2 linked regions of the Homo sapiens genome follow. The protein of the gene in region 2 interacts with the protein of the main gene of each other region in a pairwise test. Each region holds a gene or a part of one and is shown on either strand. Other genes may lie near its edges.

What was found.
Region 1: the proteins of RGS3 (region 2) and DEPDC1B interact in a two-hybrid assay, tested with the Homo sapiens proteins (one study listed by BioGRID).

The regions. Positions count from the first base shown.
Region 1 is NC_000005.10:60,689,820-60,697,382, forward strand, and holds part of DEPDC1B (DEP domain-containing protein 1B), read right to left. Parts: intron 1-7,563.
Region 2 is NC_000009.12:113,458,794-113,466,806, reverse strand, and holds the start of RGS3 (regulator of G-protein signaling 3), read right to left. Parts: upstream 3,081-8,013; 5' UTR 3,005-3,080; coding exon 2,926-3,004; intron 1-2,925. UniProt on the Homo sapiens protein: Down-regulates signaling from heterotrimeric G-proteins by increasing the GTPase activity of the alpha subunits, thereby driving them into their inactive GDP-bound form.

The sequences.
Region 1 (7,563 bases), on a different chromosome or scaffold from region 2:
TCACTTGAACCAAGGAGTTCGAGACCAGCCTGGGCATCATGGGGAAACCCCATTTCTACAAAAAATTTAAAAATTGGCCAGGTGTAGTGGTGTGTGCCTGTAGCTGCAGCTACTTGGCAGACTGAGCGGGGAGGCTGAAGTGGGAGGATCACTTGAGCCTGGGAGGTCAAGACTGCAGTAAGCCATGATTGCACCACTGCCTTCCAGCCTGAGCGACAGAGTAAGACCCTGTCTCAAAGAAAGATAAAAGTATTTACAAGTTAAATTTTATTTAAACATGTTGAATTATATTTAATAAACCTGAAGTGTTTTTTCAGAGAAAGCATTTATAAGCATTTTATATACTTATAAACATAAGTATATTTATGCTTTATAATCAGAGAAAAATTAGAACTAATTTGCCATTTTATAATCAGAGAAAAACTAGAACTAATTTGAATAAAATTGACTGAAGCGTGGAATAGCCACAAAACAAAATACTATCAATAGTTCCAGACAGAAATAGATACCATAAATATAACAAAGTGGAAGAAAAACGTACAAAACACTATATATAATCTGATCCTATCTGCTTTGGTATATGCATATGAAAAGCTAAATGAATATACAACAAACTTAAAAATAAAGGAAAGTCATCTCTTTTGAAGAAGGAATATAAGGCAACTTTTATTGTGTAACATATTTCTAATTTCTTTCTACATAATTATTTCAACATCTTTTTAGGAACGTAGGCTCCCTGCCAGTCCTCCTAAAGTCCTTAAAATTCATAGTCATATTCTCATTTTCTCTTACTCTTCTCTTTCAAGTCTGTCACTTTATAAACTCCGAATCTTTTGTCTCTCACCTCTCTTCCTATTTAAATCAGATTTTTCTGACGTCATCTTTTTCTTTAAACTGTATTTCTGATCTCAGAGTTGTTTTTTGTTTGTTTTGCTTGTTTGTTTGTTTTTGCCCAACCTTGGGTCATGTTTTCCCTTCTAATCATGACTTTTCTTCCAGATTTCTCTTCATACTCTCTGCTGCCCAACCACCTGAGAAACTATTATCCTATTTCTCTTTTATTTTTGATGGCTAACCTTCTCAGCCACATTCATAATTCCTGAGCATACAACAGCAGGAGCTTGAGGGACAGAAGTGGGGTTTGTGTATGCATGTACCCCGGATGTGTAGCACAGTGTGTGACCCACACTAGGTAGTCAATAAGCAAGTGCTTAATCGATCTTTCACTTTTTCTACTTTTTTTTTTTTTTTTGAGACGGAGTCTCACCGTATAGTCCAGGCTGGAGTGCAATGGCATGATCTCAGCTTAATGCAACCTCCGCCTCCCGGGTTCAAGCGATTCTCCTGCCTCAGTCTCCCAAGTAGCTGGGGTTACAGGCATGCGCCACCACACCCAGCTTATTTTTATATTTTTAGTAGAGATGAGGTTTCACCATGTTAGTCAGGCTAGTCTTGAACTCCTGACCTCAGGTAATGCACCCACCTCAGCCTCCCAAAGTGCTGGGATTACAGGCATGAGCCACCACACCCAGCACTTTTTCTACTTTTTTTAACCAACTTCTCAACCTCAAGAAATTTAATCCCACTAATTGCTAGTCATGTCTTCCTCCTGGCCAAACTGAAATAGCTTTTTATTCTTACGTTAATCTTTCTACTTCTTTTGACACTGTTGTGAGTCATGCTCCAAATTAAGTTAGTCCAAATTTAAAATCTTTTTTAACTTAAAAACACACAGAAACAAGGCAAGCCACTGAGTAGGATAAGATATATCTATCATTTCCAAACAAAACAAAAAAAATCAATAAGAAAAAGACATTCCAATTACAAAATGAAAAAAAAATTTAAACAGGTATATCATAAAAAAAAAGATCTTCAAATGTCCTATAACATATACAAAGATGTTAAACCTCATTAATTATCAGTGCAATGTAAAAGAACTCGACAAGTCAATATCACAACATGGCTGTCAGAATAACTAAAATGAAAGACAGGTGGATCTACTGATCCCACTTTTGGGTATTTGCCCAAAACATTTCAAGTCAAGATGTCAAAGAGATGTCTGCACTCCCATGTCATTTACTATTTACAAGAGCTAAGTTATGGAATCAACCTAAAAGTCCATCAACAGATAAATGAATAAAGAAAATGTGGTATACATATACAATATAATACTATTCAGCCTTTAAAAAAAGAAAGAAATGTTGTCATTTGCAACGACATGGATGGAAGTGGAGAACATTATACCAAGTGAAATAAGCCAGGAACAGAAAAACAAATAATGCCTATTCTCATTTATACGTGGAATCTAAAACAATTGAGTTCAAAGAGGCAAAAAGCAGAATGGTGGTAACCAGAGGCTGAGGGGAGTGGGGAACGGGGAGATAATGGTCAAAAGGTACAAAGCCTCAACTAGACAGGAAATTATCTTTTTTATTTGAGATATCTTGACATCATGGTGAAGATATTAATAATAATGTACTTTCAAAATCTGAGAGTAAATTGCAAGTGTACAACAAAAAAATGTTAAGTATTTGAGGTGATGGATATGGTAATTAGCTTGATTTAATTATTCCATTGAATTCGTAAATCATAACATCATTTTGTACCCTATGAATATATACAACTATAATTTGTCAGTTTACAACTTACAAAACTAAAATTTTTTTTAGAGACCTAAAAAATAAGAAAAAAGGTAGGCAACACTAAGTGCTGGTAAGAATGTGAAAGAACTAGAAATCTCATACACTGCTGTAAGGAATGTAAATTGGTGCGACCAGTTTGGAAAACAGATTGGCAATATCTACAAAAGCTAAATATCTGAACACCTTATAACTCAGCAATTCTACTCCTAAGCATATACCCAACAGAAATCCATATATATGCTCCCCAAAAGACACATTGTTCATAATGGCACTATCCATAATAGGCAGAAACAACCCAAATGTCCATCAACATAATAAGTTATAATATATTCACCAATAGAATGCAGTGAAAATGAACGAACTATTGCTACATGCCATAACATAAATGAATCTCAGAAAATAATATTGAGATGAACAGGCCACATATGAAAAGTAAATACTATATGATTCCATTTACTTGAAGCTCAAAAGCAGGCCAAACGATCCATGATATTTAAAATAATGATAGCAGTTACCTTCATAAGGAGGTAGGGACCAAGTGGGGGAAAGGAGACTTCTGCGGTGCTAGTAATATGATATTCCTTGATCTGAATGTTGGTTACATGGGATGCTCACTTTATGAAAATTTGTTGAGTTGTACACTTTTTATACAACTCAACAAATTTTTTGAGCATTTTTCTGTACATTATGCCTAATTAACACCTAAAAACAAAAACACATACATACACATATGCACATGTTCACATACTAAAATTATTACCCACATGAAAGTTGGCAAATATGAACTGGTTGGTTGGGGTGGTAAACTGGATGTGGAAGAGAGTAGGGAGGTTGGAGAAGAAACCAAGTGAGTGGATGAAGGAGGGAAAGTATGTAAACAGGAAAAGCAGAGCAAAGGCTAAATAATGAATAGTAGAAAGGAAGCCCATAAAGAGTCCAAGAACGCTGATTTAACTTCTCTACCTATCCACCCACTTTACAAGGTTATTGTAAGATCAAATGAGATCATGACTATAAAAGTCCTTTGTTAAAAATGCGTTCCTCAAATTTAAGGATAATATATAAAATGTCCAGGATATCTCTTAAATTATAAGGTTCAATCTATTCTAGAGCTGGAAAAAATCTTTGGGACAAAATCAAGACCTTAGCAGGATACACAACTTAGCAAATGTCATTCAGGTACTTAGTCTGTGAATAAGATCTGGAATCCTGTGCTACGGACTTTTCTTCAAGTAGTCATTTCACTATACCAAGTACCTATGGATATTACCATACCTTTAAACAATTTTCACATATTTTTAATCATTGATTATTGATTTTTTTAATACATGCCCTGATACCTAGCTTTCATTTATCATTAGATTGTTGTACCGAAAAGGCATAATCAAGTATGTAGGGCCGGGGGAAGGGGTAATAAAAAAGATTTTTGTTTATGTTGGTTGAACAATCATAATCATGAACTAAAATTACCTAATGCATAATACCTTATGCATTACATAAACATAATGAAGGCATGGCTCTCTGGGACCCAATATTTCCAAATATCACTAGGTATATCCACTAATTGACCCAGTCTGGTTAGCAGTTCTGTTGTTCTTTTAATTACAGAAGTAATAACACTCATTGAAACAAACAAATTAAATACAGAAGTATACACAAAAGAGTTTGCATGTCTTACTCCATACCTATCACATACAGACACATAGACAGAATTTTTCCTTTGTAGGTGTGTCATTTATTGTTGTTTGCCATTTTAAAAAATGAGATCAATCATGTTGTATATGTTATCCTAAAACACGCTTTTGCACCTAACAGATACCTCCCTGCGTCATACCTGCAGATCTAGCCCATTCTTAAGAATGTGCCATAATTTATTCTGCCATTTTCTAACAAATGGTCATCCAAGTTCTGCCCAGTTCAATTTTTACAAATATGTTACAAGTTATACTTGTTTATATAACCTAAAGTACCAAGGCTTTTGTTTACTTTTGATAGACTTCTAAAAAGTATCAGCATATTTAAATCAGTTGTAGCAATTCACACTTCCACCAACAATGTGGGAGCCTAAAGCCTTACACTTTGGCCTACACTAGATGTTATCATTTCTTTCATTTCTGCCAATCTATGTAAAAGAAATGATAGATCCATATTTTGTTTGCATTTTCATATCTTTACCTTTAGTCATATTCATTTCTTCTTCTGAGATTTGCCATTTTTCTATTGGGTTATCTCTTTTTTAAAATCAATTTTAAGAACTGTTTAATCTGTTAATGTTTAAAGGGCACAGAAGTCAGGAAAGTTAATCGATTTTGTTCAGCTCAATATCCTCACAACAAAGACCAGTGCCTGACATATAGTATACCCATTTAATATGTACTGATGAATATAGAATATTAAACCTTTTTGTTATATGTTACAAATGTTTTATCTTAGCCTATCAATTTCTTTACATAGTCTCTAGCTATACAATGATTTTGTTGTAGATGTTGATGTTTTTATAAGGAAATAATTATCTATTTTCTTTATCAGTTCAGGGTTTATTCTCTTAAGAAAGCTTCCCTATCCTGAGGTATTAAAATATTTATCAAAATTTCCTTTTAATATTTTAGAGGGTATGTTTTTTAATATGTAAACCTTTAACTGAATTTTATATGGTGGGAGGCAGGGGATCTCTATTTTTTTCTGGATGGAGAGTTGTGTTAGTCCATTCTTGCGTTGCTGTAAAGAAATACCTGACACTGGGTAATTTATAAAGGAAAGAGGTTTAATCAGCTTACGGTTCTGCAGAGTGTACAAGAAACATGGTGCCAGCATCTGCTCAGTTTCTGGTGAGGCCTCAGGAAGCTTTTATTCAAGGCAGAAGGTGAAGCGGAAGCAGGCAGAAGGAGGCACATAACACAGCAAGGGGGGAACAAGAGAGAGTGAGGGACAGGGTGCCACACTTTTAAACAATCAGATCGCACATGAACTCAGAGTGAATACTCACTCATTGTCATGAGGACAGCAACAGGCCATTCATGAGTGATCTGCCCCAGTGACCCAAACACCTCCACTAGGCCCCACCTCCAACACTGTGGATTACATTTCAACATGAGATTTGGAGGGGATAAACGTCCAAACCATATCAAGAGTCAATTATGCCATGCTTTTCTAAATGAACAGAAATATTATTAAGTAACCTTACATATCACACTTCTTGATTGTTTCTATCCCACTGAGCGACTATCTGTTCCTGTGTAATACCATACAGTTGTCATTACAGTCAATTAATACCAAGTATAAATCCCTGGTAGGACAAGGCCCCTGTCTTCTTTGTAAGGGAATGTGAAAACTTCTTTCTTTTTTTATTTTTTTTGAGACAGAGTCTCGCTCTGGTGCCCAGGCTGGAGTGCAGTGGCGTGATCTCGGCTGACTGCAACCTCCGACGCCCTGGTTCAAGTGATTCTCCTGCCTCAGCCTCCCAAGTAGCTGGGATTACAGGCATGTGCCACCACACCCAGCTAATTTTTGTATTTTTAGTTGAGACGGGGTTTCACCATGTTGGCCAGGATGGTCTTGATCTCCTGACCTCGTGATCCACCCGCCTCGGCCTCCCAAAGTGCTGAGATCACAGGCATGAGCCACCGCACCCAGCGTGAAAATTTCTTTTTGTGAAGTTCATTTCTTTTTGTGAGGGAAAACTTTTTTCAGTTCTCAGAATTTTACTCTTCAGCATGAGCTTTCAATTCATTGCATTCTCCCACACAGGAAAAAAAAATCCATTAGGATTCAGAATGGATTAACTGCTCTATTGCTACTGACTTTTATTTCATACTAGAAAATGTCTAATAAAACATCTTTATCAAAGTCTCATTGCCCCTTTTAAAAAGAGCATTTATAAATAGACTTTTGAATTTACTCATTTTGATTTTGAATGGCATTTATCATTATGGGTTATATTTCCTTAATATATGAAATACTTTAGATTTTTTAAAGCCTACTGAGGTCACTTTGGTCTCTGTTCCCACTTATTTCCAAATATAACTAAGGGGTTATTTGGCTACTCTGCTCAGAAAGAAAAATAAGTATCTTTAAATAATCTAACAATATACCATTCTCAGTCACTTTTGGAAACAAAATATCCTCTGTCAATAAATAACAAGAAAGAGCTTGAGTTTTTTTTTCATGACATTATATTTGAAGAGAATCTTTACAACAAATGGAACAAAACAGATTTGTTTTATGATTTTAAAACACTTTTTGTTTTGCTCTACTTATTAATTTCAGTCCCCTAGTTTCTCAGGAAAAAATAAAATCACACAATTGTTTTTTCTTAACATGATGAGGCAAACTATAAGACATACACCTACTGCTGTGCATCCTGTTCTTTTCTCCAGGATATTCCATTTCATTTCTTCTTAGTACCAAAAATATTATGATAGCGGTGCTATAAAGAAAACTGACTGGTCTGGGAGTTCAGTGACAACCACTCCTAGATCTACTTGCACTTGCCACAACCTCGTTGTGTGATCTTGCCATTCTAACTCTCAGATTCAATGAAAGCTGTATGTCTTTTAAAATTTATCAGTTGCATCAGACCATATATATAACTCAGAATAAGTTCAAAGATTTAAGCAGTTTCTAGAAAAAAAATTTTTCTCTCTACTTGAATGAACTATTTATACCAAGTTTACAAAGATGAAAGTTATTTCAGTGAAAATGTATAAATGGATAACTAGCTTCACATTTATCATGAGTTGGGGCTGTCATTTGACTTTTGTCATAACATTTTACCTAATCCACAAAATGTTATTTTCAAATAAGACTTTGGTGCTTTAGAAAAAGCACCAAAGAGCTTTTTCTAAAGCTGTACATGCTTTGAGAAAGTAAAGTGAGCCATGAAAGGAGAAAATAAAGGCCTAGTTTTTGTATCCCAATAGAT
Region 2 (8,013 bases):
CATCTCTGTGAATATACTAAAAACCATTGAATTGTATGGTTTAAATGAGTGAATTGTATATATCTGAATTATATTTCAATAAAGCTGTTACAAGAAAAATCAGCAAATATCCTAATCAAAATAAAATATACAATCCTGGAGAAAAATATTATGTATACCTACAATGACTTCAAATTACATCATTTTTCACAATAAAGAAAAAAAAATCCCTCTAGAGTAGTTGGGTCCTAGCCTCAGCTTGCCTACTCCCTTCCCCTGAAGTAAGGCCACCTCCTCAGAACGCAGTGTCCTTCAATTAATGTCACTTGAACATACTCCTTTTGGGGGACAAGGGGTTGTGTTCATGTGTACACACAAATACATATATCATGCAGTACTCTCCCCGAAGGGAATTCTCATCAAAACAGTTTTGTCTCTTTATATTTCCATAGATGATTATGCTCCCTTTACATGTCTGTGCTCAGGAAACTACCAGCTAAGCAACATCTTCATCTGGTTCTACCAAGGCAAAGCTCACAGTAGAAGGCCAGGGGCTACCTACTTTGCTAAGGAAAGGCCAGTGAACTGAGAAAAACTTAGCCAAAACCTTCACAGTAAAAGTGGTCCCAATTGCTACCAAAACTGACTCTGAATCCATAGCTTCCAAACCTGGATGACAGTCTGAACGCTCTATGGCTTCTTAAGTGTTCATATTCTCAGGCTCCACCCCAGACCTATTAAACTAGAGTCTCCAGAAGAAGATTCTAGGAATCTGTGTATTTTTAACAGGCTCCCCACATGCTTCTGATATTTGGCTGGGTTTGGAAACCACTGATAGGAATCTTTGCTCATAAGCAGATCAGTGAAGATCACAGTGGATAAAGAAAATCAGCAGCCTGAAAGAGGGGCACCACGACAAATGGCACCCAGGGAAACAGAGCCAGTGCAGGAAACAGGAGAGAATTTCTCAAATGCTCTCATAAGCATCCTTAGAGAGATGTGAGAGGAGCCTGCACGAATAAGAGCAGGTGGCTTCCCACCCCACCCAGGCTCCTGTCTGCCTCCTGCACACTCAGGTCACAGTCACTTGTTCAAGCAGCAGCCTTCCCTGATACCCATCAGACTCAGCCCTGAGGCCATGGCTGGGCAGGAAGATCCACTCCCTGCTGGGCCTGAACCCTCCTCAGCTTCCCAGATCTGGCAGGCAGATTAATCTAATAGAAGAACATGGACCAATGCAAGGAAATATTCACATCAGGCCACTAAGGAAAACATATGGGTTACAAAATTGTCCATACAAACTTGATCTCAATTGTGTTGAAATTTGACCCCTAAATACACACAGGCACACACACACACACACACACACACACACACACACACACACAGAAATAGGTGTGGAAATAAGCCTGGGAGGATATAAATCAGAAAGTTAACAGTGGTCTCCCTGGGAAGTCAGATTACAAGTGATTTTCACTTTCTTCTTTTCACTAAGTTTTCAGCAGTAAACACATGTAACCATGATAATAAGGAGGAAAAAAGCAAACATATTTTTACTTTTTAATCAGGACACAGCTAAGGTAAGAGGGCCTCACAGCTCCCTGACACCCTTTCCTGATCACTCCTACCCCAGCCAATACAGATCATCCTGGAAACCACCCTTGTCTCACAGAGCCCTGCATCCCAATGGGGTTAGCAGGAATTGCCTCCTACGCTGGGGCATTAAGTGAGATAATGCAGGTAAAACACTTGGCATAAGGAATGGCAATGGTAAGTTCTCAACAAATGATGGCTAGTTAATTGCCCTTTATCGTCCACCAACTAGACCAGTGAATTCCTGCTGCCAGACGTCAGGCAATTTCAGAGGCCAAGCCACTGCTCTTCCATCATTCCCTCTACCCCTAAGGAAAAAAAGCAGGTTGTGGAAAACCAAATATGTTGAGCAGGAGTAAGCCTGAAAACAGAAGAGCCAGGAACCCCAGGGAGGGACCAAACTCCTTGGGCACTCTGTCTTTGAAAGCTGGGCAATGTCCAGTAATGTTTCAGTAACAGCCCCAACCTTTAGAAGGAAATTGTATGCAAGTTCAAACAAAAATGCGCTGGACAGGTCATCTCTGGAAAGCTTGAGCTCAGCTACGAACTCTGCCACTGGCTCATGGAAGATCTCTTGGTTTCAAGTCTTCACAGAGGAAAAATAACCCCTCTCCACAGAGAGTTGCAGGACCAGTGAGGAAATGAAGGGTTACCCTCAAGGGTAGGGTTGTTACCTTTACTATGGCTACCAGGAAGGCCAGGTTTGCCCAGACCTTTGGGCAGCTGCCGCCCAGCTGTTATTTGGGGGAACTCAGTCTGCTACTTAGGGGCTTGGGAGTGAAGCCTACTGTTCACTTCTTTCCACCTCAAACCCTGAGGCAGCCCTGGGACCCTCCTAAGGGATTGTTCTTTCTTGGAGGAGAGAATTCTCCCATCTCCACTGTGGCTCAGATACCCAACAAAGTCAAATTGCAGCCTCCCCACAAGGCAGCAGGGCCAAAGGGCCCAGCACCTGTCCGCTCCCTGAGCCAAAGGAAAGTGGGTGAATGAGATCTCCAGTTGCTATAACAAGACCTTGATTTAACCTGAGCTGCTTGCTAATGAGAAACTCCGTGGTGACAACCCAGGTCTCTGAAAGATTAACCAGAGCGTGATTATTCCAGCCAAGTGAGGCAGAACCAACCGCAGTTGGCACTCATGGCCGGGCAGCAGGTGGTGTCCAGCAGCTTGCTTGGACTGAGCCTGTGCCCTGAGCCCCTCCTGGGCAGTCACAGGAGAAAGGGGCCAGAGAAGGTGCCCCTAGATAGAAAGAGCACCTGCTCCCAGCCTCCCCTGTCACCACGAGGGGCTGCGTTTCTGGGCGCTGGGAGCAGGGTGAAGCAGCCCCTGCCGCCAGCCCCAGCGGGCACTTACCAAAGGTGGTGAGGTAGAAGGACAAGTCCGGGTGGGCACGCCGGCTCCCGAGGGAGACGCGGTGCAGGGAGCGCTCCATGGCGTCCCACTGCGACCCGGACAGGAGCGTCTGCAACCCGAGGCGGCTGTGTTGCTCCCCAGTAACCGGAGTCTCCAGGGCGGGAGGAGCGCGAGCGGGAGGTAGGGCTGCCCCAAGCGTTGGAACGGCCAGGGCGCGCCCGGCCCTGATTGGCCCGCGCGGGTTTGAATGGGGAGAGTTCCACCTGCCGGAGCAGAGCTGGGCCGGGGTGGGGGAGGCGGCGCCGCCGACCCGCGCTGAGCAGCGACGGCAGCCACCCAAGGAGCCAGCAGGACGGTGCGGCCACCCCGGGTATCCCGGCCCCAGCACCGCGCTCCCGGTTGGAAATGCCAGTCCCACGAGAAGGCCCAGTCCGGGGTGCCCACTCTGGGCAGGCTTGGCCTCCTCGTCCAGCTCTCCTAGACCAGCAATTAGTCGGGTTTATAACCTGCTTTGAAGCTCAGGCCTATAATCATTAGATCCAAGCAAAGGCAAAGGAGCACCCGATGGCCCAGGGCAGTGAGGTTTGGAAAAGTGTTCTCTGCGCTTGGACAGGTCGCCCCCCACCATGCTGCATCCTCTTCCCAAACCCTGCATCCTGGATCACTCTCTTGAGCCTCCTCTTGAACAAGTGCTGCCTGACACAGGTCCGGATGGGAGCAGCTTGCTCCAACCAACCTGATGGCCCCCCGTCCCACAGCCTGATGCCATCGGACAGCAGGACAGGCCCACAGCCTCTGAGAAAGAGGAACGCACAGGAAACGGAGTGGGGTGGGTGAATCCCCCAGCCTGGTGCGGGGAGGCAGAGCTGGAAGGTCAAACCCTGCTTTGCTGCTTTGTCAGCAAACATTTACAGGACACCTCCTCGTAGCAGTTTCACACCAAGACATCTGCTCTGCAAATCTCTGTTGCCACTGTGGGAAGGAAAGCTGTTAGTCTCGTGTAAATCTAAAAATGGGAAGTGTTGGTATTTGTCCCTGTTCCCCAGACTTCATCGCCAAGTGGATATTTGTGGTTCAGTGATCCACTCAAAAACAAGATGGGGAGATGCAAGACAGAAAGTGGAGAGAAGAGTTATGTGTTGAGTACCAGATGCCAGAGGCTGAGCTGAGCTGGGCAATTTACACACATCATCTCAGTTAATCTTCACGGTAAGTCTAATAAGTATTAGCCCCAATTTACCAGGAAGAAATCTGAACCTCAGGCAGAGAAGACAGGTGACATGCCCAAGGTTTGCAGAGCTAGGAATAGGCAGAGCTGAAATTTGAACCCAGGCCTGTCTGCCCCAAACGCCATTGTCCTATTCTTCCTTGGCCTCCACATCTGCCCCATGGCCAACAGCAGGTGGAAGGAGCAAACGCCACAGGGTCAGGTGGCCACCAGCGAGGAGCAGAAACTGCAGAAGGAGCCCTGAATCAGCAAACTGGTGATAAATCACATAAATGCCGTAGGATTGTTTGAATCCTGGCACTTCGTGAAGTCCTGCCCTGCTCTTTACTGCACCCCCCCACCCCACCCCACTCTCCCCCTCCAACCCCGGTTACACACACACATGGTGAACACTGCCTTTAACAAGAGCAGGTCCACTCTCCTAGCCTCAAGCCAGTGACAGATGGACTTACCTGCACCCTGGACTTTGGCATGCGTGATCCTCTTCCTGGCTGGAGAAGTTTGAGTCCACTCATCTCTTCTGGGCAGAGCGATATCAGGGCTTAGCCACTCCATCCAGCCAGGGAATATGGGCAAGCTCAGGCTCAAGCCACAGGATGTAGAGAGGACACTGAGCACAGAGACGTGGCAGACCTGCAGGAGCAAGATGGGAGCATGAGTTAGCCATGGCCTGAAGATGCTCCATGCAAGGTGTGTTCACTCCCAGTAGGAACTAGAAAGCATGGTGTTCAGGAAACAGCAAAGGAAGGCCCACAGGGAAAAGGGAAGGTGATGTGCCTGAGATGATAGTCACCTCTTCACAACTTCGCCAGGGACCACTGTAGAGCCTCCTCCCAAAGGGGAGACTATCTTGGGCTCCAGAGGCTGTGAGCAACCTGCAGGTACAACACTCAGGACGGTGAGATCCAGAAAGAAAATTGGGCAAAGGTGTGCTGTCTGAATGTGACCTAGGAGAGAAAAGACCGAGGCCCACACTGGGCACTTACACCCGGTAATGGGAACAAAGATTCTACTGCTTTGTAGGTCCCCTCCTGACTCCTGCCCCACTCTGCAGCTAACATATTCAGTTGGAAGATTGCAAGGCCAGCCTGATCCTGAGCTGGCCCCTCTGATGGTATCACCTTCACCACCACCAGTAAGGCTCCTTTACTCAGTAGCGTGCTGGAAGCTTCCTTTTCCTAAAAGGACAGGTCGGTCACCCTTTCCTCAAGAGATGGAGGAGAGAGGTGAGTGGGAGCTTGGGCAGGGCACTTCAGGAGAGACTGGCCCTATTAACCCACACTGCTGTCCAAAAGCAACATCCAGAAAGGCTCATGATCATGGCCCTGCTTTCCCCAAGAAGGCAGGAGAGTTGGACCAAGCCTGGCTTTCTCACATGTCCTGAGCATTCTAGCACCCCCTGGGGTTCTTCCACCTCACACATGTGCACACACACTCCACACATACATTATCATACCACACACGATAACAATCATACACTCTGCACACATACATACACATACCTCAACATATCCCATGTACACACACAGTCACATCATATGCACATATACACATACATAAACACACTACATACACACCTCACATACATATACAAACACACCCCACACATTATATATGCATCCTATGCATATATATAAGCACACATCACACTGACACATGCACACAAAACACATACACTACATATATACCATATGCATATATACAGATTGATTTGAAGCACTTAATAAAGTATCGAGCAATGATTTTAGGCATTTTTTTAAAGACTGACTATATCTGGAATAATAAGGAATACTTGAGTTTGAAAAGAAGGGACTAAATGGATTTATTTGGGTGCATTTTCACAATAACTCTCAAAGAATCTTAGTGACTTTAAGATATCATCTAGCCCAATAATAACCAAGAAAACTTAGAAAAATAATAACAAAGGGAACTTGTACTACCAGATGTTAAATGGTGTTAAATAATATAAAACTAAAAAGAAAAGACAGATCGATGGAATTAGAGTAGAAAGTTCAAGGGGATAATTTATTTAGAAAATAACAAAGATTTAAAGTGTTTTAACTAAAAATTCATTTCAAAAAGTTAGAAGAGGAATAAGCTAATTCAGAAGAAAAAAAAATTTTTTTTTTTTTGGAGACGGAGTCTCACTCTGTCACTCAGGCTGGAGTGCAGTGGCGCAATCTCGGCTCACTGAAAGCTCCACCTCCTGGGTTCACGCCATTCTCCTGCCTCAGCACCCCCCGAGTAGCTGGGACTACAGGCACCCGCCAACACGCCCGGCTAATTTTTTGTATTTTTAGTAGAGACGGGGTTTTACCTGTTAGCCAGGATGGTCTCGATCTCCTGACCTTGCGATCTGCCCATCTCAACCTCCCAAAGTGCTGGGATTACAGGCATGAGCCACTGCGCCTGGCCAGGAGAAAATTTTAAAAGGAAATAAGGTTAAAGGTGAAATTTATCCTCAAAAAAATAAACTTCAACAATAAGACCAAAGCCTTGTCTCTGAAAAGTTCAGTAAAATAGACCTCTGGCAAAATGTATACAGAAAACCAGAAATAAGCAAGTTTAGGGAAGAGAAAGCCAAGATATACAGGTGATTTTTTTTTTTTTTTTTGAGAGAGTTTCTCTCTTGTTGCCCAGGCTGGAGTGCAGTGGTGCGATCTCTGCTCACTGCAACCTCCGCCTCCCAAGGTTCAAGCAATTCTCCTGCCTCAGCCTTCCGAGTAGCTGAGATTACAGGTGTACACTACCATGCCCGGCTAATTTTTTGTATTTTTAGTAGAAAGGTGGTTTCACCATGTTAGCCAGGCTGGTCTCAAACTCCTGACCTCAGGTGATCTGCCCACCTCAGCCTCCCAAAGTGCTGGGACTACAGGTGTGAGCCACTGAGCCCGGCCTCTTTTTTTTTATTTTTTTTGAAACAGAATCTCGCTCTGTCACCCAGGCTGCAGTGCAATGGCACAATCTCAGCTCACTCCCAGGTTCAAGCGATTCTCATACCTCAGCCTCCCAAGTAGCTGAGACTACAGGCACGCGCCACCACACCTAGCTAATTTTTGTATTTTTAGTAGAGACAGGTTTTCACCATGTTGGCCAGGATGGTTTCGAACTCCTGACCTCAAGTGAACCGTACACCTTGGCCTCCCACAGCGCTGGGATTATAGGCGTGAACCACCGTGCTGGCTAATATTTTAAATTATAAGAGAAAACCACTGCAACCTTATTGTATAAATTTGAAAATCTGAAAGGAACTGGATGATTTTCTAGAAAGTATTAATTAGTAAAATTGATAAAAAGTTTGAAATTTTTAATAGATCACTAACTATAGATAAAATAGAAAAGGAAACCAAAACTCTATTCGACAAAATTATAGAAAATCCAGATAGTTTTAAGAGGCTAATTCTATAAGATCTTCAAGAAACAGATGATGCTAATGTAGTTTTAACTATTTCAGAACATAGGAAAAAACAAAGATGTGTCAGCGCTAGGTAGAAAGCTAGACAAAGACAAAAACCAAGTAAGGTTAGAAACAGAAAACTATAGACCAAAGGTAAAAGATAAAAGTAAGAATAGAAGTTAATTAAATAGAAAATATACAATAGAGGCTGGATGCAGTGGCTCATGCCTGTCATCCCAACACTTTGGGAGACCAAGATGGATGGATCACCTGAGGTCAGGAGTTCAAGACCAGCCTGATCAATATGGTGAAACCCATGTTTGCTAAAAATACAAAAGATAGTCAGGTGTGGTGGCATGCGCCTGTAGTCCTAGCTACTCGGGAGACTGAGGCATGAGAATCACTTGAACCCGGGAGGCAGAGGTTGCAGTGGGCCAAGATAATGCCACTGTGCTCCAGCCTG